7 linked regions of the Homo sapiens genome follow. The protein of the gene in region 7 purifies or fractionates together with the protein of the main gene of each other region. This does not show direct contact. Each region holds a gene or a part of one and is shown on either strand. Other genes may lie near its edges. The genes, in order: LRRFIP1, UBE3C, CLTCL1, EPB41L3, RBP1, ACTR2 and EEF2K.

Region 1 (3,500 bases), on a different chromosome or scaffold from region 7:
CCTAAACTCTCCAGGTATTTTATTTGTTTTATGGAAAGTATATCTCAGATCTTAGAGAACTTTCCAAGCAAATAAATGAATTATTCCTTTGCTTTTTGTCTTCTTCTTTTTCTCTTTTTGAGATGGAGTCTCGCTCTGCTGCCCAGGATGGCGTGCAGTGGTGTGATCTTGGCTCACTGCAACCTCTGCCTCCTGGGTTCAAGCAATTCTCCTGCCTCAGCCCCCCGAGTAGCTGAGACTACAGGTGCAAGCCACCACATCTGGCTAATTTCTGTATTTTTAGTAGAGATGGGGTTTCACCATATTGGTTAGGCTGGTCTCAAACATCTGACCTCAGGTGATCCACCCGCCTTGGTCTCCCAAAGTGCTGGGATTACAGGCACAAGACACCATGCCCAGCCCAATTCTTGATGCCTGAAGCTATGAAAATCTCATATTTTTTTGTTTTACTATCTTTATTTGCTCAGCTAATTTGACATTTTATTTCGCTCTCAGTAAAAGAATACCATAATGATGGGTTCCTTTGTTTGAGCTGTGTAGACACTAGAGGTTAGCCGTTCTTCCCTGGTGTATGTCTCAGATTAATTTTCAACTTTCTTTTCCAGCCTTACTAGTCCCTTAATCAAAAACAAAACTCCACCTGCAGGCACCAAATTAGAGAAGTCTGACTGGTTAACATTAAGCAATGTTTCCTCCTAACACTGACATGGTGGTCAAGGGCACTGGCCTCAAAGGCAAGAGACTGGGTTCAAATCAGAGCTGCTTGCCCCTGCCTGAGGAACCACTGTCTGGTACCAACACTTCAGCCGCCCTGTGTGGCTTCCTGTTCACACTTTGTGACATCTCTCTTCCTGGCCTTTGCTCAAATTGTAGTCACCATGTTTAGTGCCTCCCTCTAAAATATGAAAGGGTAGCTGAGGATCACCACACATCTGAGAAAGGCTCCAAGATGACAGAGGCCAAAACACACAAAGGAGGAAAAGAAACAGACCAGGATGCAGGGAACAAAAAAATTTTCAGGAAAACCCCCAAATTAAGTGAATTTGCTTAATATCCTTAGAGTAGTAAGAAAAGGTACTGCATTAGTGAGTCAAGAAAGGATGCTATAGAGATAAAGAACAATAAAAAAACTTAGCAATTCAATATAAAACAGGTAAACTTAGTAGAGGGAGTGGATGGTAAAGTTGAAGAATCTTCCTTGAAGTATTACCAAAAGACAAAAAAAAAAAAAAAAGAAAAGAAAGGAAAATGAAAAATTACTTCTTTTTCTGTTCTGTCTTACAGAAATTACTGTAAGACAGAACAGAAAAAATGATGGGGCTAGGAAAAAATTCAAGAAAATTTCCCAGAATTTTAGGATACAAGTTTCCAGATTGAATGAACCCAATGAATGCTCAATAAGTGGGGGAAAAATCCAGAATTCTGAGAATAAAGAGAAGATCCTAAAAGTTTCCAAACTTTTTCTTTTAAATTTTTTTTTTTTTTTTTTGAGACAGAGTTTTGCTCTGTCAACCCAGGCTGGAGTGCAGGGGTGTGATCTCAGCTCACTGCAACCTCTGTCCCCTGGGCTCAAGTGATCCTCCCACCTCAGCCTCCCAACTAGCTGGGACCATAGGCACAAGCCATCATGCTTGGCTAATTTTTGTATTTTTAGTACAGAAGGGATTTCACCATGTTGCCCAGACTGGTCTCAAACTCCTGAGCTCAAGTGATCCACTCACTGCCCTCCCAAATTGTTGGAATTACAGGTATGAGCCACCACACCCACTCACTTTTTCTTTTCTTTTTTGTGGAGATGGGGGTCTCACTATGTTGCCCAGGCTGGTCTTGAACTCCTGGGCTTAAGCGATGCTCCTGCCTCAGATTCCCAAATAGCTAGGACTACAGGCATGCATCACCATGCCCAGCTAAATAAAAAAAATATATTTTTAAAGGAAGGGTCCTACTTTGTTGCCCAAGCTGGACTTGAACTCTTGGTCCTAAGCTATTCTTTCACCTTAGCCTCCTGAGTTGCTGGAATTACAGGTGTGAGCCATAATGCCTGGCTCCTAATTTTACTTTTTTGATATTTATTAGTTTATTTTATTGACTAGTTAATACAGTCACATGGTTCAAATATCAAGAGCATGAAGAGTGGCACTTGACAACCTGCTTCCACCTCCATCCCCACACTCCTTTCATTGTGTTCTGCCAGTGATTTTTATTCAAATGCAGGAAAATTGCAGCCTTTCTCACACAAGGAACAGCATGCTATCTTTATTTTCTGTATATTACTTTTTCCAATTAACAATACTTACTGGAAATTATGTCAAAGAAGACACAGAGTTCATCATTTTTTGGAAAATTATTTTTAACCTAGAACTCTATACACAACCAAAGTATCAATCAAGTATGAATGTAGAATAAAGACATTTTCAGACATGTGAATACTTAGAAAAGGCATTCTTGCTCCGAAAGCTACTGAAGGATGTGTTCCAGCAAAATAAGACAGCAATCCAAGAAGGCAGATAATATGGAATCCAGAAAATAGGGACCTAACAACAACAATAAAAAGGGGGTAAAAGAAATTCTCAGAATGGTGGCAGAGGGAATGGCAGGTGCAGGAAACCCTGAGGAGAACATCCAGACCAGACTGGATCTAGAGGACAGAGGTCTCTAGTGGGTAGATTTCCATGGGAGAATAAAATGGAATTGATAGATTATCTGCTTTGTTTAATCATATAGAACATAGCATTTTGATGGGTTCTATTGAAAACTTTATGGAGATATGTAGATATATAGATAGATAAGCTAGATATGTAGGCAGATGAGCAATGAAAAAGAAAATAAATCATTAACTCTAGAAGAAGCAGAAAGTTGTATAAGGAAAGAAAGATTATAGTACACTGCTTGGCTCTGCAATTGACATTATTTACACAGCTGGCAAGATCATCATCATCACCAGCATTTACTGAGCATTTACTATGTGACAGTCATTGTTCAGAGGTCTTTTTGTGAAAGATCTCATTTACCCTCATAACTGCCCTGGGTGAAGTATACTCCTAAAACTTTCCCATCTTACCTATGGGGGAACTGAGGCACAAAGTTGATAAGTAACTTGCCCTAAGTCATGGTATAAGGGACAGAATCAGGATTTGAACCCAGGAAATCTGATTCTAGCACCCATATTCTTAAGCAGTCTGTCCTGCCAGTGAATATTCATTTAGCCCCACACTACAATGAACTATAGTGTGATGCAGAGAAGGAAAGTAGGGAGCTGGCCTGAACTGGGCCCATGCACACCAAGTCCCGTCCTTCAATGCAGGAGCCAGCTGACAGCATCTGCAATTGATAAACTAATGTGTAATACATATGTATGTTATTTATAAACAAGGAGATCATTACCAGATCATTGAGGGTCTTGTAGCTTGTTTAAGGACTTGGGTTTTACGGAGTGATACAAGACACCCTTGGAAAGTTTTTATCAGAGAAGTGGCATGATCTGACATATTTTAAAAGGA
Region 2 (3,500 bases), on a different chromosome or scaffold from region 7:
TAATACTCTTGTGCTGGGTCCTAGATGATACGCATGTTCAGCTGTTGTGCACACCGCTGCCACAGTTTCCCCGTGTCGCACGCCCACAGCATCTGAAGGTATCCAGGTTTCCACATCCTTGCCAACACTTGATATTGCAAGTCCTTTAATTTTAGTGAGGATGTAGTTTCTTTGTGGTTTTAATTTTGTTTCCTGACAACTAATTATGTTGAGCACCTACATATGCTTGTTTTCCTGAATTCTCTTTGACTGCCGCATAAGTCCCTTCCCTTGTTGGAAAAATGAAGTTATAGTGACCCTTTTCTCATGTCTTAAATTATTATTTGAAATCTTCCCTTTCTGGAGCTTAGTGGAAAATGGAGTGGTTACCACCTTTGAATAAGCTTTTTCTTTTTTCAAATTAAATACTTTTAGTATTTATTATTTGTATAGATCTGTGTACGACAAGTCTGACTTGAAGAAGTTGATAATCTTGTTGGGCAGATAAGACTTAAGCAATTAAAAATTAAATAACAATAGAGTAATTGCTACATTCTAAATTTCCCTTGGTCCTGATTCAGAAAAAGTAGAATTGTTTGGAGCTTAGTCCTGAAGGATGGGTGTAATTAGGATGGGTGGAAGACGAGAAGGCATTCCAGGTTCGTGGAGCGGGGTGTGTGGAGTACATGTAGATTGGATTACATTGATTCAAAGTCACTTTGGGGAGCTAAACATTGATTACACATGGACATAAAGATGGGATGATAGACACCAGGGACTACTAGAGGGGGAAAGAGAGGGACGGGGACAAGGGCTGGGAAGCTACCTGTTGGTAACTGTGCTCACTCCCCGGGTAATGGGATCATTCACACCCCAAACCTCCGCGTCCTGCAGTATATTCTTGTAACAAACGTGCATAGGTACCCCCTAACTCTAAAATAAAAGTTGAATTTTTTTTTTTTTTTTGAGATGGAGTTTCGCTCACGCTGGAGCGCAGTGTTGCCCAGGCTGGAGTGCAATGGTGCGATCTCAGCTCACCACAAACCTCCACCTCCCGGGTTCAAGCGATTCTCCTGCCTCAGCTTCCCGGGTAGCTGGGATTACAGGCCTGCACCACCACGTCTGGCTAATTTTGTATTTTTAGTAGAGATGGGGTTTCTCCATGTCGGTCGGGCGGGTCTCGAACTCCCGACCTCAGGTGATCCGCCTGCCTCAGCCTCCCAAAGTGCTGGGATTACAGGTATGAGCCACTGCGCTCAGCCTGAAATTTTTTTTTAAGTCACACTGATTTCTATCTTTAAATATTTCTGACATCGGGATACACACTGATAGCATGATGCAGTTTAATTGGGGGTATGTTTTTCTTGGTAGTGTATAGAAGAATATCACGGGGTCATCTGATTTCAAGTACAGAAATGGACTAAAACTAGCTTAGTAGGCAAAACAAAAAGAAACAAAAACAAGTTTATGAAAGGATAGGCGTGTCTGACAGAATAGAAAGGTCAGAAACACCCAGATAGCAGGTATCACCACCACAGGAGTTGCTTGTCTTTCTCCAGGAGCTGGGTGCACTCCCTTCTTCCTGTCTCCTTCATTCCTGGCTCTGCAGACTGGCTTTCTCCATTTCTCACACATGGTTTCCTAGCTTAAGCGTCAAGAAAGTTTGATCATAATTACCAGTTTTCAGGAGAGGAAAGTCTGATTGGCCTGGGTCATGTTTCCACCTGATAACCTCAGTCTGAGGAGGGCTTGGAGGCTTGGTTCAGATGGAACAGTCTAGGTGCACCTGAGGGCTGGGGTAGATTCTTCAAGAAGCGGGGAGTGGTCGTTGACTGAATGCCTGAGTTCCTGTGGGACAGGCACAGGAAGGAGTCTAGGCTAGAGATGCAGATTTGGGGGTTATCAACAGAATGGTGGCTTCGAACACAGGTCCTTAAGAGGACTTGGAGTTTGGGACAGGGTGGGACTCGTGAGGTACTGCAACATTTAATATGTGTGGGAGTTGGGGATACTTACAAAAGAGTCACACCTCCGGGAGTGGAGGAGAGTGGTGTCCAGGGAGTGAATCTCAGGGAGGGAGGAGTGACAGGCAATGCCAAGTGCTGCACAGACACAGTGAGTCCACTGACTGCGGAGCTGGGAAGAATTGGGTGATTTGAGCATATTCTGTAGGGTAGTCAGAGTTGGAAGTCAAGAGCATAGCACATTGGAGAGTGAATGGGAAGTCACAAACAGGGCCGAACACAGGCCGGATGCTGTGGCGCACGCCTACAATCTGCCACACCGAAGACTGAGGCGGGAGGATCGCTGGATCCCGGGAGTTCAAGGCTGCAGTGAGCTGTGATCATGCCATAGCACTCCAGCCTAGGCGACACAGCATGACCCCATCTCTTAAAAAATAAGGCAGGGGCAAGGCAACAGTGTAGACCTTTTTTGAAAAGCACCGGAAGATTGGATGATAGAGGGAAATTCGGTGTCTCGGAAATAGTTTTGTCTGTTTTGGGAGACGGGGGAAACTTAAGTTTATAGACTGGGAAGGACGGGGGTTAAAAATGTGGGGAAGACAGGAGTGGCATAACTTTCAGAGTCTTCGAGAATACCCGAGAGGGGAGAACTGAGTGGGAGCAGGCAATGGGAAATATTTTGAGACTTAAAGAAGCTAGGGATGAATATGGATATAGAAAAGTTTGTAGACCGGAGGAACTGAAATTTTTTAAGTTTTTGTAGATCTGACAATAGTGGGAGTAGAATTAAGATCACTTTAATGTTTGTCCAGTGCTTTTTTTAAAAAAAAATAGACTTTATTTTTTAGAGCAGTTTCAGGTTTACAATCAAGCAGAGGGTAGGGTTCCCATATGCCTAGTCTCCCTCACCTCACTTTTCTCTATTACTAGCATCTGGCATTAATGTGGATCATCAGTTACAATTGATAAACCAATGTCGATGTGTTATTATTAATTGAAGTCCATAGTGTACATTCAGGTTCACACTGTGTGTTGTGCATTGTGTAGGTTTTGACGAATATATGATGACATGTATCTACCCTTACAGCGTTATACAGAAGAGTGTCATTGCCCTAGAAATCCTCATTGCTGGCCAGGTGTGGTGGCTAATGCCTGTAATCCCAGCACTTTAGGAGGCCGAGGTAGGCAGTCAGGAGTTTGAGACCAGCCTGGCCAACGTGGTGAAACCCCGTCACTACTAAAAATACAAAAAATTAGCTGGGCGTGGGAGGCTGAGGCAGGAGAATTACTTGAGCCCTGGAGGTGGAGGTTGCAGTGAGCCTGGATTGTGCCAGCGCATTCCAGCCTGGGTGACAGAGCATGACTCTGTCTCCAAAAAAAAGAAAAAAGGAGGAGGCCCGGCACTTTGGAAGGCCAAGGAGGGTGTATCACCTGGAGTCAAGAGTTCGAGACCAGCCTGGTCAACATGGTGATACTCTATCTCTACTAAAAATACAAAAATTAGCCAGGCGTGGTGACAGGTGCCTGTAATTGCAGCTACTCAGGAGGCTGAGGCAG
Region 3 (3,500 bases), on a different chromosome or scaffold from region 7:
GTGTAGGTACCACCTTCTGCCAAACACAATATCCAATTAAATGAATTGATTTAATGTACATGGAAGGCACAATTAACTATACAAAGAGCCCAGACCACAAAGAAGTTTCCTGATCTGTGTGCAAACACAGCCTGCCAGTAAGCACACAGGGATAAGATCTGGGAGTCTGCCAAAATATCAAATTAACATACAGAAGGAAGAGAGGGAGAGAAAAAACAAGATAAAGCTCCCAAATAAAACGAAGATGGAAGGACTGGAAAACTAAGGATAATAAAAAGCTGAAGAGAATAAAATATGATCATTATGAATAAAGATCCTAACAGCAACATTGCCAACTCTCACACCAGAGGACTTACAAAGAAGGGTATTTTATAAACTTTAAAATCAGCAACCACTCAACCACACGTGAGTAATCTGTGAGATGCCAGTGGTTCAACACACGTTACCTTTTTGGCATAGAGCACAATTTTCTGGAATTGGCCTGTTTCTGCAAAACACTGGATCACTTTGCTTGGCACATTTGCCCGAAGGTACACACTCAGAGCGAGCATGGGGTCAGTGGTTTTGACCAAGTCTCCGAGCTCCTCTGAGCACTCCAGCTGTGGTATGCCAAGGGACAAGGCAAAGTTAGGAGGCAGGTAGGGAGCCTGGACCAAGTTTTCAAGCTGTGCGGGGGGGCTACGAGCTCACAAGTGTTTCTACCTTATCTTCTTTCAGCCACTTCTCTAGGAGTTGCTTACGCCCCTGCTGAAGAACCAGATGGCAAAGTTCTAAGGATTCAAGTTTATTGAGCTGACCCTGGTCGAGCAGGATTCCGAAGTACTGCAGCAATGGAGAAGCCTGGCCAGACTGAGCGGGTATACTCTGGAATTTCTGGACCGTCTCTCTGGTACGCAGGATTCCCTAATAATAAATGGAAAAATAGGTCATTGTGTTGTAATCACAGGGGATCCCTTCACTCAACTTCCTTGTATGTAAAAACAAAAATCTGCCAGTGGAAATTCCACACTGCTCTGTCATAGACAAAAAGTCCTCTACCAAGGCAACTGCTTCTATCTTCAACAATAACCATAAGTATAGGGGAATCTAGGTCCTCCAGGTGGCTTCACACTTAGGGTCTTACTTCTCCCCCAGCATGCTGCAGTAAGAATTCGGCCTCTCAATCAGTCTTGTAGTAGTGAAGTTCTGCTATCATTATATTCTAATTCAAAATACTCAAATTCACAGATGAAGGCTAGAAATGGTTTGTTCACAACTACCCCTTGAAAGACAAGAAAAATTCTTTCAAGGACAAGCAACTTGAAAGTCTTTATCTACTCAGGAACAGATCCAGTCTCTGAACAATTTATCCAAATGAAATAAACCCAAGAAAAAGCCATATGCCGAAATGCTATATTCTAAAAGAGTGGAGAAAGTCCAGGGTAGGACTATCGCTAGATAAAACAGGGAACAACCACTTGATGTATTGTACAGTTGCATATTTGACAACCAGGTAGCAAGAGTGGAAAATGCTAAGTTACAGAAATGTGAAACTGTATCTAAGCTGTTGGGTGAGAGGTACGTATGCACACAAAGTGGGAGGCGTGAAGAAGTGCCGATGCAGCAAGAGTGTGTTTTTTGTTTACTTCCTTTACTGTTATGCCATTGGTGCAAAAATTTTAAACTAAAAACTCCTAACATAACACTAATAGACTGCAATATCACTAGTGAAATGCTTTTATGACTTATTTTCCTCTCAAGGTTGGTTCTTAACACTCAGAACACTTGAACAGTATTCAAGGTTTATCACCTTTGGTGCAGACGCTGCAACTTTGGCGGCTTCAGCATAGCTGCCCTGTGCAAAGAGGGTATTGAATTTTCTCACAAACAACTTCTCTGCCCCAGCCAGGTTACTACGAACGGCCAAACGCAGACCAAGGTCTGGATTCTGAAGCACGTTGGTTGCATAATTCACAATGTTATCTTCCTCAACACAAACTGACAGTACCTGTAAGGACACAACAAGTGAGAGCAGCCCGGCCTAGAAGAGTGCTCCACCATCCCTCTGCCATGTTCCCTTCCGATGCTGGAGTGGTAGCCACATTCTCAGGCGAGTGTTGAGCACACCTGTGATGGTGGCCCTCACAGTGAAAGGAGGCAAAGCAGCCGAAAGCCAAATGGTAACAAAACAGAACAGCATAGGAGTCTATGTAGTTATTAAAGTCACACAGATAAGTGTGATGCGTTCTGCGCTACAGCAAAATGACCTATGTGGATGGAACTGACAATTTTTCTTCTTAAACTTTTTATTTTTAAAGTACAGAGTTTCTTTCTTTTTTAAAAAATATTTTTGTAGAGACAGGGTCTTACTATGTCGCTCAGGCTGGATTCAAACTCCTAGCCTCAAGCAATCCTCCTGTCTCAGCCTTCCAAAGTGCTGGGATTATAGGAATCAGCCACTGTTCCCGACTTTTTTTTTTTTTTCCCCTGAGACAGGCTCTCACTGTTTCACCCAGGCTGGAGTGCAATGGTGTGATCACAGCTCACTGCAGCCTCAAACTCCTGGGCTCAAGCCATCCTCCTGCCTCAACCTCCCATGCAGTTGGGATTACAGGCATAAACTATTGTGCCCAGCCAAGAGTTTCTTCTTTTAACTATCTTTTTCAACTATGGTTGAGAAAAGTTACTTAAATACCATAGTATCTGCTTTTTCAACCCTCCCCAGTTAGGGTGTGCATGGTATAAAGATGATGTGCATCAGAACTGCTGTTCTATACGCAGGAAGGAGCTGCTCTCCTCCTGGAATCAATCCTGTGTTAGGAATGGTGCTGTCTGAAGAGAGGAAGTGTCAATATGAAGGAGGAGACATGGGTTTAAGTTTAATAACAGGAACTATTAATAGCTACACCCAGCTGCTTTCCTAGAGAAGGGGGAAAGTTTAAACGCCAGTCCCTAATGAATGGAAAAGGTAGAAAATGAAATGTCAGAGTTACACACCTGTCCCTTTTTGTTGACACCAATAATTCCAGAGGTTGGTTTGTGTGGAGCAGTGACAAATATTGTGTCAGCACTAATACGGTTCATGCAGATGCACACGCCAGACTCTAGGTCGTACAGATGAAGATAGCCATACTTTGTGATCAAGTAAATAACACCATGTTTAGCTCCAATCTATAAGAAGACAGAGAGCAAGAGGTTGGAAAGTAAGGAGGAGAAGCCATGCGGGTAAAAAGAGCTCACAAATGATAAAGAGGATTCTTGTTTGTTTGTTTGTTTTTTGAGATAGGGTCGTGCTCTGTCACCCAGGCTGGAGTGTAGTGGTGCCACCATAGCTCACTGCAACTTCCGACCTCTGGGCTCAGGTGATCCTCCCATCTCAGCCTCCAATGTAGCTGGGACTACAAGTGTGAGCTGCCACACCTAGCTATACAAGGATTCTTCAGTTTCTCAGGCCGAGAGATTACTGGTGGGAGCAATGCTTTCCTGAGACATGGATTCTAAGTTGTACTTGATTGAGAATT
Region 4 (3,500 bases), on a different chromosome or scaffold from region 7:
ACTAAAATACAAAAAATTAGCAAGGCGTGGTGGCGGGCGCCTGTAGTCCCAGCTCCTTGGGAGTCTGAGGCAGGAGAATGGCATGAACCTGGGAGGCGGAGCTGGCAGTGAGCCGAGATCTCGCCACTGCACTCCAGCCTGGGTGACAGAGCGAGACTCCGTCTCAAAAAAAAGAAAAAAGAAAGAAAAAAAGAAACCCAAGCATTCTGAGTCCAAGGCCAGGTTTCTTTGCTCTATGCTAAACATTTTCTTCAACCTTAGTACTATTTATTTATATTATATCTTCTTTCCAGGTTAAACGCTCATTTGACAATAGTGAAGAAGCTGGAAAGTCATTAAGACAAAAGTCGTTAAGACAGTGTGTCTCAAAATGTGGTCCTGGGACCACCTGGATCAGATTTCACCAAAGTACTTGTCGGGACATAAGGAGGTCTGGATCCAACTGCAGATCTATTAGATGATAATCCGTGGATTGGTCCCCAAAAATTCCTTTTTAATAAACTCATCAGGTAATTCTGTTGTATAACCACTGTGTCTCATTCTTTGCAAACCTCTACTGTTATCTGGAGTTTCATACTCAAAAAATTCTGCATTCTCATAGAGGGCCATCTTTTGGATTACGGGTTTTGTGGTGGAATGTCACAAAATTCTACACTCATCCTGAGGGTCATCTTTGGATCTTACAATTACTAAGACATGTCCCTAAAAACAAGCAAAGAGGACAACAGCATATACTACTGAAATGAGAAAACATGTACTATGTGTATACTCTCATTAGACTGGTTCTAGATGTCTTCAAACACAGATCTCATTTCAACCTGGAGGTAGGCAGCATCGTCATCTGTTCACTCTGGGGAACCTTGCCTAGAGAAATAGAGTACTCCTCCCACAGTTACCTAGCTCAAGGTTAGCAGATGTTTCCATCTGTATCTTCTCTAGCTCTTTGTATTTTCTTTATTCTGCAACAAGGATTCCCCACCACTGGGCCAAGGACAGTGGTGGTGAGCGGTGGGTGAGTCAGCATTACCACCTGATCTCCGCCTCCTGTCAGATCAGAAGTGGCATTTGATTCACATTCTTGAGTGAGAATGTGAGAATGTGAACCGCACACGTGAGGGATCTAGGTTGTGCATTCCTTCTGAGAATCTGATGATGTGAAGTGGAACAGTTTCTTCCTGAAACCATCCCCCACAACCCCCGTCCATGGAAAAACTGTCTTCCATGAAACCCCAACCTCTGTGCCAAGGACAGGGCCACACAGCAGGAGGTAAGCAAAATGGAGGTCCTTGGTGCTAAAAAGGTTGGGGACCCCTGTTCTACAATATAACTCCCCCCAATGAATTACTGCTCTCATTTCAAGAATTCAGAGGAAAAGTTTTCCAGACTTCTTGAGCAGACAACCTAGTCAATCTCTATTTTCCAAGTCTTATACTTAGCCAGTAAGCATATTCCTTCTAAAGTTAATAAAAGTTGTCACTGAGTAGCACAAAATGGTATAAAACACCAAAATTCATCAAGAATAATTCTCTGTAATGAAACTACCCAAAACTCCCTATATCTCTGGGATGTTAGTAACTCTAGGAAAAAATTACGTAGAAATATGCAACTGTCCGGGCCAGCCTGAGACCTCTAGATGCCCCGATGGCATCATCTCACAGAAGCCTGGGTGCACCATTCCAGCTAGCACCACCTTCAGGATCATAAAGCTATTCTCCCCAAATTGGTGAATGAAGACTGGATTCCAAGTAAATCCAAGATCAGTCAAAATCATGGGATTGTGAATAACATAACAGAGCAGCCCACATCCCTGACGAGGTGGCATAAAATCTGTGAATGGAATATGACATTTGTTACCATTCTGTTGTTGAGGACGAAGGAAGGGTTGGGAACTCAGAGAGAGATCAAAGGAAGCTTAATATTTTCCATCTCTGGGAGCCCAGTGACCCCGTACACCTACTAAACTATCCCAGACCCTGGATATTTTGATTCTGGAGAGTCTAGTTCAGGTCCAGACTGCTGCATCTGCTGTCCCTCGAGGCATGCCAAGAGGCACATGGGAGAATGATGGGCACCCAGGAACTCAGGTTAGGCTTTGCTGGATGAGCTCGCCCCTCTATAAAGAGATGACATTAAAATCTAAATTTAAAAAAGTCAGGAAATCTATGGTGAAAATTTGCTTGTTTTAGTTTGTTAGAACTCAATATTCACACACAACATTGAGATATACATAATAATCATCAGAGATTTTAATTTTTTTAAATATCCTGTTTTACCACAAGCCTCCTGATGTGTATATTAGAAGAGAGTCATGAAGTGTAGGCAGCAAGCAGAAGGAGGCAGAGGGGCTGGACAACAAGGCTTCACATCAACACCATCATTAAGGTAATGATCCTTTATCAATATTGCACAAGACCAAAAGAAAATATTTATTTACCATTAAAAATAATGATGTGGGTATAGATTTGCATGCATGAAAAAGCTCCTCCGAGACATACTGTTACATTTAAAAAAAAAAAAAATTTGGCCTGGTGCGGTGGCTCACACCTGTAATCCCAGCACTTTGGGAGGCCAAGGCGGGCAGATCATTTGAGGTCAGGATCATTCGAGACCAGCCTTGCCAACGTGGTAAAACCCCATGTCTACTAAAAATTCAAAAAAAAAAAAAATAGCTGGGCAGGGTGGCGGTTGCCTATAATCCCAGCTACTTGGGAGGCTGAGGCAGGAGACTCGCTTGAACCTGGGAGGCTCACTTGAACCCGGGAGGCAGAGGTTGCTGTGAGCTGATATCGTGCCACTGCACTCCAGCCTGGGCAACAGAGTGAGACTCTGTTCTCAAAAAACAAACAAACGAAACAAACAAACAAAAAATGGTTACATAGAAGTATTTAAGACAGAAGTCTATTCATGTAAAATATTATGTAATCTACATATGAGTCTGTATATGTACAAAATGATGCTACTGCTATTTATGAAGCACTTGTGATATACCAGATACTGTGCTCAGTGTTTGCATGTATTACATCATTTAATCCTCATATCCTTCAGATATAAGCATTATGCCCATTTTATAAACGAGCAAACAGGCTCTAGGAAGTTAAAAGAACCATGCCACATAGTTATTAAATAGCAAGGCCGAGAGCCCAACCCAGGTGTGTCCTATTCCACTCTGATACGTAATACATTCAGAAAGGTAGATAATGACATTGCCTTTTTTGGTTTTTCTGTATTGTTAGACTATATTTTAAAGTGAGAATGTATTATTTTTAATATCTCAAATAACTGAGATACATTCATTGAAAGGATAAGGAAAATCTTCCCATATTTCGTATATCTCATTTTCTACCTTAAACAATCCAAAAGTAGTATTTAATCCTCAGTTAAATACTCCCACAAAAAGATGGAATGAATTGCCAAAATATCAATCATTGAGAGAAAAAAACATCACATTCAATTTCTGCAAAATTTTGGATAACTCCATTAACTAAAGACCATCTGTCTCC
Region 5 (4,072 bases), on a different chromosome or scaffold from region 7:
AGCCTGCACTGTGAGAACACATGTGAGCCCCAGGGAGGCACCCTGGGGAAGGTGGTGCTAGAGGGGAAGAAAATGTTATCTGCTGTCACTTAGGCTGTGATTTGTGCAAAAAGCGATTTAAAAGAGGTAGTCAAAAAGAGGGTCAAAAAGTCAGCCCATGTGATTATGTCATCTACTTGGTGGCAAATGCAGTTAAACCACAATGACATACCCACGCAGGTGACAAAGGAGATGTGATCAAAGATTTTCATTGCAGTACTGCTTTTAATAGTGAAAGATCAGAAACAATATAGTTTGTCCATCAGGGGACAAGCTGGATAAGCAATGGAATACTCCGTAAAATAATGGGGATACTTTCTATGTACAGCTATGGAAAAGTCTCCAGAATATATTAAGTGAATAAAGCAAAGTCCAGAACACCGTGGAGTACAGTGCTGCCATTAGGTGAAACGGGAGGAAACATTAATAAACAGTATATTGCTTACATTTGCATAAAGCAGCAGTGGATCTCAAAGTTGATTGTGCATCAGAATCACCCAGAAGGCTTTTTTAGCCACATGCACTTCAAATAACATCAACTATTTTACTTATTTATTTATTTATTTATTGAGCCAGAGTCTCACTCTGTCGCCCAGGCTGGAGTGTAGTGGCACGATCTCGGCTCACTACAACCTCCTCCTCCCGGGTTCAAGCTATTCTCCTGCCTCAGCCTCCCGAGTAGTTGGGACTACAGGCGCCCGCGACCACGCCCGGCTAATTTTTTGTATTTTTAGTAGAGACGAGGTTTTACCGTGTTGCCCAGGCTGGTGTCGAATTCCTGACCTCAGGTGATCCGCCCGCCTCGGCCTCCCAAAGTGCTGGGATTACAGGCGTGAGCCGCCGTGCCCGGCATCCTTTCTTTTATTTTCGGGAGAGACGTGGAAAGTGCCCCAATTTTCTCGCCCGTAGTTGAACCTCCCAGCTTTCCTGACCCCAGCCACCACCGGCGCGAGGCTTTAGACAAAGGCCTGTAAGTGGCCTCTTTCCTTAATCACGCCAGCACAAACCCCAGGAGATTGTTTCCCAACTCCCGAGTGGCTGCTGAGTGTGAGAAGTTAATGGCGTTTGAAGGAAATCCCCAGCAGCCGAAGAGTTCGGCCAACAAAGCAAACGTCCCGTCTCCGGTCTCCTCTTCCTTTGTAGGGGAAACGAACTGAACGTCTGAAACGAAGGTGGCGCGGCCTGGACAAACCTGACCCTTCGACATCCCCCGCCCCTGCGCCCGCCCTCGCTAAGCGGGGAGGAGCGACCGCTACAATGGATCCTCCCGCAGGCTTTGTGCGCGCTGGGAATCCAGCTGTCGCCGCCCCGCAGAGCCCCCTGTCCCCGGAGGGCGCTCATTTCCGGGCCGCCCACCACCCGCGTAGCACCGGCAGCCGCTGTCCCGGCAGTCTCCAGCCGTCCCGCCCGCTTGTGGCCAACTGGCTCCAGTCACTCCCCGAAATGCCAGTCGACTTCACTGGGTACTGGAAGATGTTGGTCAACGAGAATTTCGAGGAGTACCTGCGCGCCCTCGGTAAGCGCTGCCCGCTGCGCCCTGGGCGCCCCGCCGAGCAGCTCCGGGCCGCTCCCTAGAGCCCTCCCGAGACGCTGCCTGCCTGCCTCCATCCCGGCGAGCCGCGGTCCGGTGCCCCCGGACGCCAGAAAGGGCGTCCTCGGCCACCGCTCCCAGGGCAGCCCCCAGGCTGCAGATTGGAGAATTCGGGGTTGTTAGGTTAACCGGTGGCAAATGTCTGCTCGTTGGCCCTGGAGGTGGGTAATTTCATTAGTAAATCTGGGGCTTGGTTTGCTACTTTTTGTTTTTAAACGGTTAACATAAGAGCAGAAAACTTTGTTGGGGGCGGCAGGGGAGGCACAGGCAGGCTGTGCGCAGAGACAACGCAAAGCCAGCGGGAACCCTAACAGTGTTCGCGGGCGGAGAGGGCTCCTGGGGCCCCGCTACCTTGGGAACGGTTCTCTGAGTTTCCCTGCCAACTCTCTGGCGCTCTCTCTCTCCCCGTTCAACCCCCACCGCAGACGTCAATGTGGCCTTGCGCAAAATCGCCAACTTGCTGAAGCCAGACAAAGAGATCGTGCAGGACGGTGACCATATGATCATCCGCACGCTGAGCACTTTTAGGAACTACATCATGGACTTCCAGGTTGGGAAGGAGTTTGAGGAGGATCTGACAGGCATAGATGACCGCAAGTGCATGGTGAGGATTCGCGTCCACCTGGTGTCTCCTGCCCAGGGGGCCTGACCAAGGGCTGGGCTAGTTCATCCGAGAGGGGGCAAGGGCCTGAGGGACTGAAAACTCTTCCCACTCTCAGCCCCCATGGTGGGCAGCACCAACTCATGAAGCATCCTGCTCTATCTACACTGGAAGGTGATGGTTATGAAGGCTGCCATGTGCTGTGTCTCCACTGCGTTCAGGCACTCTGCCCGGTGCTTTATGCACATGACTTCACCTAAGCCTCACACAGCCTTTGAGGGAGATATGAATATGCCCATTTTACAGATGAAGAAACAGTCTCAAAGAGATGAAGTAACATGTCCAGAGTAGCACAGCTAGGGAGGGTCTGGAGTTCAAAGCATGTCTGTTGATGCCGTTCTCTGGCTGACTGGGCTGGTGGAGGGTAAAAGAAAAGAAAGGAGGAAAGAAAAAAGAAACACAGGTAACCCCTTTGAAGTGTAAACTTTCAGTATGACTTAGTGTGAAGTCACTCCAGGAAGCTGGGGGCCCCTTGATCTCTGCTGGAAGCCCCCTGATCTGCCCATCCTTGCCCCAGAGCTGGGATTTGGCTCCTGGCCATCCCCTGCCCCACCCTGTCATCCAATGCCTACTGAGCATTCTTTGAACTTTGCAGCTGACACCTATTCAGTAAGTCAGGGCCCCTCCAGCCCAGACCAGAGGAAACAGCAGTGGGGGAAGAGGGAGGGCCAAGAGCTCCCTTCCACAAGGGTGGGAAACTCCTGACCCAGGACATCCCAATTAGTACTGCCACAGCAGATGCCGGAAGGCCAGCCCCAGGCCTCCATCAACATTATCTGGTTGCTGGGAGGTCAAGGTACTCTTGTTCTCCCTTTATAGTCTTGGGTTCAGAAGTGGCTTATGTTCATCCCAGGAGCCACCTTGCTTATTGATGGGGTCCTCACCCACCACCTCCCACCATTTACCAAGGGTCTTTACCGCTGGTCTGCTGTGTGTCCAGCACTGTGCTAGTCATCTTACAGCACAGCACAGTGAGGGAGGGATAAGTAACCCCATGTTATGCAGTGACTGAGGCTCAGACAGAGGAAGAGACTTGTAAGAGATGAGACTTGAGCCCTGGGCCTTCTGATGTTGAAGCCCACAGTCCTGCTTTCTGCCAGCTTCTCTGCTGGTAGTCTGTGCAGAAACAAGATAGCTGAGGTCTGTTAGGATTGTAGTTGAAGGGATGCCCATGTCTGGGAATAGGCATCTGGAGCCTGGATGACTCATCCCCCCACCTTGTCTATTCATCTGAAGGCAGTCAGGATTGGTATCTGAGTCTGCTGTTTGGAATGATGGGAAAGAGGGGGTAGTCAGCAGGGAGTGGCCTTGGAAGGACCACTAATGGGAGAAAACACCATTGTTGCAGAGAAATGTCAGGTTGTGCCTTTAAAAATCTCAAGGACTCTTAATCTGCAGGAAAGACTCACAATAGGAAAGGAGACCTTCAGATGGCATCTGCCTTTCTCATTACTGCCCAAGACCTGCTCCCCGGCACACTGCATGGAACTTTGCTCCTTAAGAATAATCCTTACCCCCACTCACTATTGTGGAACTCACAGATCACATCGAACCTTTATTTTGGGTCACCACAAATCTGGCATGTGCTGGCTTGTACTAATTATCTTCACTCTTTCCTTCCTTTCTTCATCCATTAACACATGAAACATTTATTGATCACCTAGTAATACTAGCAAATGCAGTACTCATCAAGTGCTTACTGTCATGCCAGATGCTATTCAAACGTTACATTAGCTGACTTAATCTTCACAACACCCTTTCAAGCCTCATTTTACAGATAA
Region 6 (3,500 bases), on a different chromosome or scaffold from region 7:
AGTCAGTAAAATGACTAGAAAAGTCAGTTTTTGAAAAGCACTGCATGAGTACTAATGTTTTGATAGTTTTGATAAACAATCAAAAGTATATTAATGAATAAATATTATTTTAGTACTGGACTCCTGTAGCCTGCAGTTTGCTCACACAATTAATGCCATATTTATGAAATGCCCCCAAGTCTTTAAAAGTTTTATCTTTAGCTTCTAGTACTGTGTCTGGCACATATTAGAAGGACAATAGCATTTGTTTAACGAATGATAAGGGAATTATTGGGATACTCAAAGGTATAATCTCCATTGTTACATTTCTTAAATGCTAGAAAATACTACTATTTTTTTAAAAACCCACTGAGAGAAAAAAAATTACTAGACTTTACAAATAAAAAAAAAATCCTCTAATATTTGAGTCTGTGTTCTAAAGACAACCCCAGAAATTCTGTTAGTTACGCTTTGAATTTTGGCCTAAAATGAGAGTATTATAATTCTCATTAATTTAATCTCCCCTCATGAGGAGGATTACTTTAAATGAGACTGAAGGAACCCAATGTCAAGGTAAAGACAGTGCAACCCAATTTAATGCAGAGACAGGGTTTCTTAATAGCAGCACCACTGACAGACTATACATTGTTTGTTGTGCAGCCAGCCCTATTCATTATAGAATGTTCAGTAGCATTCCTGCCCAGCTCAGACAACCAAAAATGTGTCCAGAAATTGCTAATATCCCCCAGAGGACAGCACTGTCCCCTGGTGAGAACCACTGTCCTGGAGAGGATAGACTGATTATAGAATTGTGGTATAAACAATTTTCTAAATTTTATTTTAATATTAAAAATGATATATGTTAGCAAGTAGACACCTTATGTACTTTCTCCAGTAATGTTTTAAAGAAAATTATAACTAGTTATATTCAGAAATAAACTAAAATAGTAAATATTAAAAACTGCATCTATTCCATGAAAACTACTAAATATTAAAGTCTGGCGTATTTGGGCTGTTTTCCTCAAATATCATTAATTTGCTATCACTGTATTTTGTAGGAAAGGACAAGAGCAGACAACCCAACCAAGATCATGGCTTAAAACATACCTGCTCAAAGAAAGGTTTTATGGCAGAAAAGGCTGCCTGAGCTGTCCAAGAAAGTTTCAAATTAGGGGTCTCTTCTATCCTTGAAATATCTGTCTACTCACTCCTCAGGAATAACAAATATAATTATGTAATGATATAATGTACTCTCATTAGTATACAGAGATCATGTGTGTACACTTTTTTCCTTGTTTTTAATGTATCTTCTTTTTTCTTCATGTGTATAAATCTTATATGAATTTTTATATAAATAAGGGAGGTAATTGGATAATTTCTCTAGTGGTACAGATTTGCTGGAATCCTAAAACGATAGATTCAATTCTGTGTTAAGGTGGTAAACAAATTACAAAATTTAATTTCCATGATATTTTCCTTTCACTTACCTTGATAAGATATCTAGTTATATCCCTCCCAGCAATATCCAGTCTCCTGGTAAGATGAGGGAGAGAAAAGCCTTCATATACTGGGCAAATGTGAGTCACACCATCTCCAGAGTCTACCACTACACCAGTCAATAAACCTGCATAAAAGCCAGGGGGATTTAAATAAAAAGTCAAATCAGGAAAACCAAAGCCAGCGAGTTCCAAATACAGTAGGGAAGCCAAAACAGAAACGTAACCAACTAGAAGCCAGAATTTATTATTTAGTTATTTTGCAGTTTGTTTCTAATGCATAAGTATTAAAGCGAGTGTTCTCTTTTAAGACTTTTAGTCTACTATTATGTGCTGTCCAAGGAGATGAGAAGAAACAGACCCTGAGACTGAGGACTGAAAAACAGGACTTTTTTTTCCTTTTTTTTTTTGAGACAGGGTCTGGCTCTGTCACCCAGGCTGGAGGAGTACAGTGGCTCAATCTAGGCTCACTGCAATCTTCATTTCCTGGGTTCAAGTCATACCTCCCACCTTAGCCTCCTGAGCAGCTGGGACTACAGGCATGCACCACCATGCCTGGCTAATTTTTGTAATTTTTTTGTAGAGACAGAGTTTCGCCATGTTGCCCAAGCTGGTCTCGAACTCCTGGCCTCAAGTGATCTGTCTGCCTTGGCCTCTCAAACTGCTGGGGTTACAGGCGTGAGCCACCACACCCAGCAGAACACGTTCTTAAAGCTCTGTACAATTCTTTATTTTTTTCAACTTAGATAGTTTTGAATATACTACAAATAACATATACTGTGTGTTCTGGAAAAATGCCTATTGATACTAGACAGCTAGAAATCTAAGAAAAATTAAACATGGCTAGCCAAAGCATCACTTTGATTATTCACTGGAACTTATAATAAAAGGCAATGTCAGTTAAACCTCATAATAAAAGAACAGCAAAGAAGCTGCTTTGTTTCCCCTGTTTCCTCAACCTCCTGGGCTCAAGTGATCATCTCACCTCAGCCTCTCAAGTGGCTGGGATTATAGGCATGTGCAACCACACCCAGCTAATTTTACTTTTTATAGAGATAGGGATCTCACTATGTTGCCTAGGCTGGTCTCAAACTCTGGAGATACAGCAATTTGACCACCTTGGCTTCTCAAAGTGCTGGGATTACAGCCATGAGCCACCATACCTGGTCAAAAAAACTTTTTTTATTTATTTTTATTTACATATTTTTTTTGAGACAGAGTCTCACTCTGTCGCCCAGGCTGGAGTGCAATGGCACAATCTCAGCTCACTGCAACCTCTGCCTCCTGGGTTCAAGCGATTCTCCCGCCTCAGCCTCCCAAGTAGCTGGGATTACAGGCACATGCCACCATGCCCAGCTAATTTTTTGTATTTTTTTTTTAGTAGAGACGGGGTTTCACAGTGTTAGTCAGGATGGTCTCGATCTCCTGACCTCGTGATCCACCCACCTCGGCCTCCCAAAGTGCTGGGATTACAGGCGTGAGCCACCACACCCGGCCTAAAACTACCTCCTTTTTAAGTGGATATAATTCCTTGATGCAATAAGCCTCATAAAACTCATATACAGCCCTTGAATGTTGTACTCTTTTAAAAAGAAGAGGATTTCCATTGCAAAAAAGAAAAAAAAAAGGAGGAATTCACACCATCATCAATTCAAAAATACTCCCAGGAACACTGACTAATGCAAGAATTTACATTTTATTTCCCAAAGAGCCCTCCCTACCCACCTCACCTTATTTTCTACCACTTCCATCAGGTCACACACATACTGGCCTTTCTCCAAACACACTTGACCCATTTCCAGTGCCACACTCTTTTCCCACTGGATTATCCCCTGAAGTGCCTAAAAGACTCCTTGGCACATATCTGACAGGCCCAGACATTCTCAGTAAGTTCCTGTTGAATTTATAAGACCATAAAAAAAAAAAAGAGCTCTCCCAACGTGGCCAATATTTTATTTCCAATAAAGAGGGAGGCAGTTGCTAATGGCAATATCAAGAGAATATATAAGTAGTCCCCTCCATTAA
Region 7 (3,500 bases):
GTCCTCTGAGCCTCTGTTCCAGATGCCCTTTCTTGGAGGCCTTAGGTTTAATCCCTGACTGATTTTTTATTTTTTAAGACAATATATCAGCTCCTAAACAGGCATGTTTAGGAGCTGTGGATGAAGGGGTTTCAGGGTTAGAGGGAACAACAGGAAGAGCCCTTTAATTCCCAGAGGGTGTGTGCGTGACATGAGTATCCCTATTAATGTCCCTAGCAATCAGCCAAGACCATCTTGAGAGGAACAGAGGAAAAATGTGGGAGCCCCCAAGTAAGGACCCTCTCTGGGAGCCGGCCACCCCTGCTCCGTCCCCTTTCAGAGAACTCTGGAGACGAGAACATGAGCGACGTGACCTTCGACTCTCTCCCTTCTTCCCCATCTTCGGCCACACCACACAGCCAGAAGCTAGACCACCTCCGTGAGTGACGGTTCGGTCCCTAGTCACTGTGATTGGAGGGGACAGGTGGAGCAGAGCTAAACCAGCTTTCATTTATGTTAGAAAAATCAGACATGCTAATCGAAAAGGTTCATGGCCCCAGTGGTTTTATAGGTGAGTTTCATTGAGTGAACTTTCAAAACAGATCATCCAAATGCTATAAAAACAACCCCTATTGTAGGAAACAAAGTAACTTTTATCAGTGTGTTTTATGAAACCAGCAAAACCTATATAATAAATTTGACAAACTAAAAAAGAAAATTATATCCCAACCTTATTTAAAATTTGTATTTGTGTATAGAGAACAAAAAAAAAATCTAAATAGATATTAACAAATAAAAATAGTACTATGTTAAAAGGTTCACCTGTCACAGTTAAATAGGGATTTCACAGGAATCTGAGGGTTGTTCAATGTTAGAAAAGCTATGAATGTGATATTAATGGGTCAAAGGAGAAAAACAGAATCATTATTTCTGACACTGAAAGAGTGGAGTTTGCTGATGATTCAGATGAGAGTCTGTAGGAAAGGATAGAGGCAAGACTGACCCCAGGGTATTGGCCTAAAGAGCTGGAGGTCATGTATTCAGGGAAAGTGTGAGCGGGAGCAGGCTCAGAGCAGGAGAGCAAGATTTTATTGTTTAGTTTTTTAATTTTTCTCATTTTGATACCTTTGAAAGAGAGAAAGATTTTAGTGTCAAACATTAAAGAAGCCCTTTAGATGTTTCCACTGGAAGGTCTTTGGAATAGTCTGGAACAGGAGTCAACAGACTTTTTTAAAAGGTCAGAGAGTAAATATTTTAAGCTTTGCAGGTCATTCAGTCTCTGCATTTGGAGCATGAAAGCTACCATAGAAAATATTAAGTGAGTGGATGTGGCTGTGTTCCAATAAAACTCTATGGATGGTGAAATTTAATTTTTGTCATCCATTTAAAAATGTAAACACTGTTCTTACAAACTATAAAAACAGACAGATAGATTTGGCTGTAGAGGGCAGGAGACAGAGATAGGGAACCACCAGGAGATGGTTGGTGTTTTTTTTTTGTTTGTTTTGTTTTGAGACGGAATCTCTCTCTCTGTCACCCCGGCTGGAATGCGGTGGCGTGATCTTGGCTCATTGCAATCTCTACCTCCTGGGTTCAAGCGATTCTCCTGCCTCAGCCTCCCAAGTAGCTGGGATTACAGGTGCATGCCACCATACCCAGCTAATTTTTGTATTTTTAATAGAGATGGGGTTTCACTATGTTGGCCAGATTGGTCTTGAACTCCTGACCTCAGGTGATCCACCTGCCTCGGCCTCCCATAGTTCTGGGATTACAGGCATAAGACACCGTGCCCAGCTGAAGATGGTTTTGAAGCTATCTGAGGCCCACTTCTTGAGCCCCAAATGTATAAACGTCTGTTCTTCCTTCACAACTGCATTTTATTGAGGACCAAGTGGTGGCCAGGCACATATGCTAATAAACACATTACAAGGATAATTGCATTGTGACAACCCTGAGGACACACATAGGTGACACCACTTGGCCAGAATCATGTAGCTGGCAAACAGCAGACTTAGAATAAGTTCTCAAGGAAGAACTTTAGCCTCCAGGTGCTGATAACATTCTTCTCCTTTTTTGTGCCTTTCTTTAAAGCTTAAAAAAAAAAAAAGGCTTGGTGGCAGGTATGGACCGCCCTAGGCCGTGGGTTGGTCTTATGCATGTTCCAGTAGTGGAACCAGGACATGATGTCTGTTTCTCCCTGCCCAGATTGGCCAGTGTTCAGTGACCTCGATAACATGGCATCCAGAGACCATGATCATCTAGACAACCACCGGGTGAGTGTGAAGGGAGGGAGGCTGCAGGCTTCAGACCCCAGCAGGGGTAGGAGTGGATTCACTCCCAGAGTGAATCTTCAGCTTCGGAGGTGGGCAGCCTAGCCCAGGCACTGCCAGGAGGGCACAGAATGGGGGAATTAGGGAGGATGCAGATGAATGTCAGCCTCCAGTCCAAGGCTGAGCTTTCCTCTGAGAAAAGGTGGGTCCCTTGCAGTTCCCAGAGATGGTTAGGGAAGAGGGACTCCCAGTCAGCAACAATGCGATCTTGTAGTAAATGCCAGTCTCAGCTCCAGGTTTGGTTTGACCCCACATGTGTTGGTTGTCCTATAGAGCCCTAATACTGGGTCTTAGATGTGTAACACATAGCACAGTAAGCCATGTGTTCTAGCTCTTCACACCTAGCTCTCCAGTTAGATAAACAGAACATTTCCTGAAGCTTTGGGTTGACTTGGTGGTAAGAAACTGAAGGCATCTTATCTGCATTCTCACAAATGTATATTATGGCAAATTATAATACTCTCTATGCTTGTGTGTGTGTTTGAAATATTTCTTAGTAAAATTGGCCAGGCATGGTAGCTCATGCCTATAATCCCAGCACTTTGGGAGACCAAGGTGGGCAGATCACTTGAGCCCAAGAATTTGAAACTAGCCTGGGCAATATGACAAGACCCCCATCTCTACAAAAAAATACAAAAGTTAGCCAGGCATGGTGGCACATACCTGTAGTCCCAGCTACTCAGGAGGCTGAGGTAGGAGGATCTCTTGAGCCTGGGAGGCAGAGGCTGCAGTAAGCCATCATCACACCACTGCACTCCAGCCTGGGTGACAGCGAGATCTTGTCTCAAAAAAAAAGAAAAAACAAATACCTTTTAGTAGAGGCTGGGCGCAGTGGCTCACGCCTGTAATCCCAGCACTTTGGCAGGCCAAGGGGGGCAGATCACTTGAGGTCAGGAATTTGAAGACCAGCCTGACCAACATGCCAAAACCCCATGTCTACTAAAAATACAAAAATTAGCCGAGTATGGTGGCAGTTTCCTGTAATCCCAGCTACTCAGGAGGCTGAGGCACGAGAATTTCTTGAACCCAGGAGGCGGAGGTTGCAGTGAGCAGAGGTCGCACCACTGCACTCCAACCTGGGCGACAGAGCGAGACTCAGTCTCAAAAAAAAAAAAAAAGAAATACTTCTTAGTAGAGGCGGGGTGTGGTGGCTCACACCTGTAATCCCAGCACTATGGGAGGCTGAGGCAG

Evidence for each region.
Region 1: the proteins of EEF2K (region 7) and LRRFIP1 fractionate together in Homo sapiens (co-fractionation; one large-scale study listed by BioGRID). This does not show direct contact.
Region 2: the proteins of EEF2K (region 7) and UBE3C fractionate together in Homo sapiens (co-fractionation; one large-scale study listed by BioGRID). This does not show direct contact.
Region 3: the proteins of EEF2K (region 7) and CLTCL1 purify together in Homo sapiens (affinity purification with mass spectrometry; one large-scale study listed by BioGRID and IntAct). This does not show direct contact.
Region 4: the proteins of EEF2K (region 7) and EPB41L3 purify together in Homo sapiens (affinity purification with mass spectrometry; 2 studies listed by BioGRID and IntAct, with this or other methods). This does not show direct contact.
Region 5: the proteins of EEF2K (region 7) and RBP1 purify together in Homo sapiens (affinity purification with mass spectrometry; one large-scale study listed by BioGRID and IntAct). This does not show direct contact.
Region 6: the proteins of EEF2K (region 7) and ACTR2 fractionate together in Homo sapiens (co-fractionation; one large-scale study listed by BioGRID). This does not show direct contact.

What each region holds. Positions count from the first base shown.
Region 1 is NC_000002.12:237,634,087-237,637,586, reverse strand, and holds part of LRRFIP1 (leucine-rich repeat flightless-interacting protein 1), read right to left. Parts: intron 1-3,500.
Region 2 is NC_000007.14:157,141,926-157,145,425, forward strand, and holds part of UBE3C (ubiquitin-protein ligase E3C), read left to right. Parts: intron 1-3,500. UniProt on the Homo sapiens protein: E3 ubiquitin-protein ligase that specifically catalyzes 'Lys-29'- and 'Lys-48'-linked polyubiquitin chains.
Region 3 is NC_000022.11:19,232,720-19,236,219, forward strand, and holds part of CLTCL1 (clathrin heavy chain 2), read right to left. Parts: intron 3,151-3,500; coding exon 2,977-3,150; intron 1,988-2,976; coding exon 1,790-1,987; intron 904-1,789; coding exon 703-903; intron 600-702; coding exon 447-599; intron 1-446. UniProt on the Homo sapiens protein: Clathrin is the major protein of the polyhedral coat of coated pits and vesicles. Two different adapter protein complexes link the clathrin lattice either to the plasma membrane or to the trans-Golgi network.
Region 4 is NC_000018.10:5,533,998-5,537,497, forward strand, and holds part of EPB41L3 (band 4.1-like protein 3), read right to left. Parts: intron 1-3,500. UniProt on the Homo sapiens protein: Tumor suppressor that inhibits cell proliferation and promotes apoptosis. Modulates the activity of protein arginine N-methyltransferases, including PRMT3 and PRMT5.
Region 5 is NC_000003.12:139,536,943-139,541,014, reverse strand, and holds the start of RBP1 (retinol-binding protein 1), read left to right. Parts: upstream 1-1,272; 5' UTR 1,273-1,296; coding exon 1,297-1,555; intron 1,556-2,055; coding exon 2,056-2,234; intron 2,235-4,072. UniProt on the Homo sapiens protein: Cytoplasmic retinol-binding protein. Accepts retinol from the transport protein STRA6, and thereby contributes to retinol uptake, storage and retinoid homeostasis.
Region 6 is NC_000002.12:65,251,831-65,255,330, reverse strand, and holds part of ACTR2 (actin-related protein 2), read right to left. Parts: intron 1,604-3,500; coding exon 1,467-1,603; intron 1-1,466. UniProt on the Homo sapiens protein: ATP-binding component of the Arp2/3 complex, a multiprotein complex that mediates actin polymerization upon stimulation by nucleation-promoting factor (NPF).
Region 7 is NC_000016.10:22,258,278-22,261,777, forward strand, and holds part of EEF2K (eukaryotic elongation factor 2 kinase), read left to right. Parts: intron 1-216; coding exon 217-418; intron 419-2,184; coding exon 2,185-2,252; intron 2,253-3,500. UniProt on the Homo sapiens protein: Threonine kinase that regulates protein synthesis by controlling the rate of peptide chain elongation.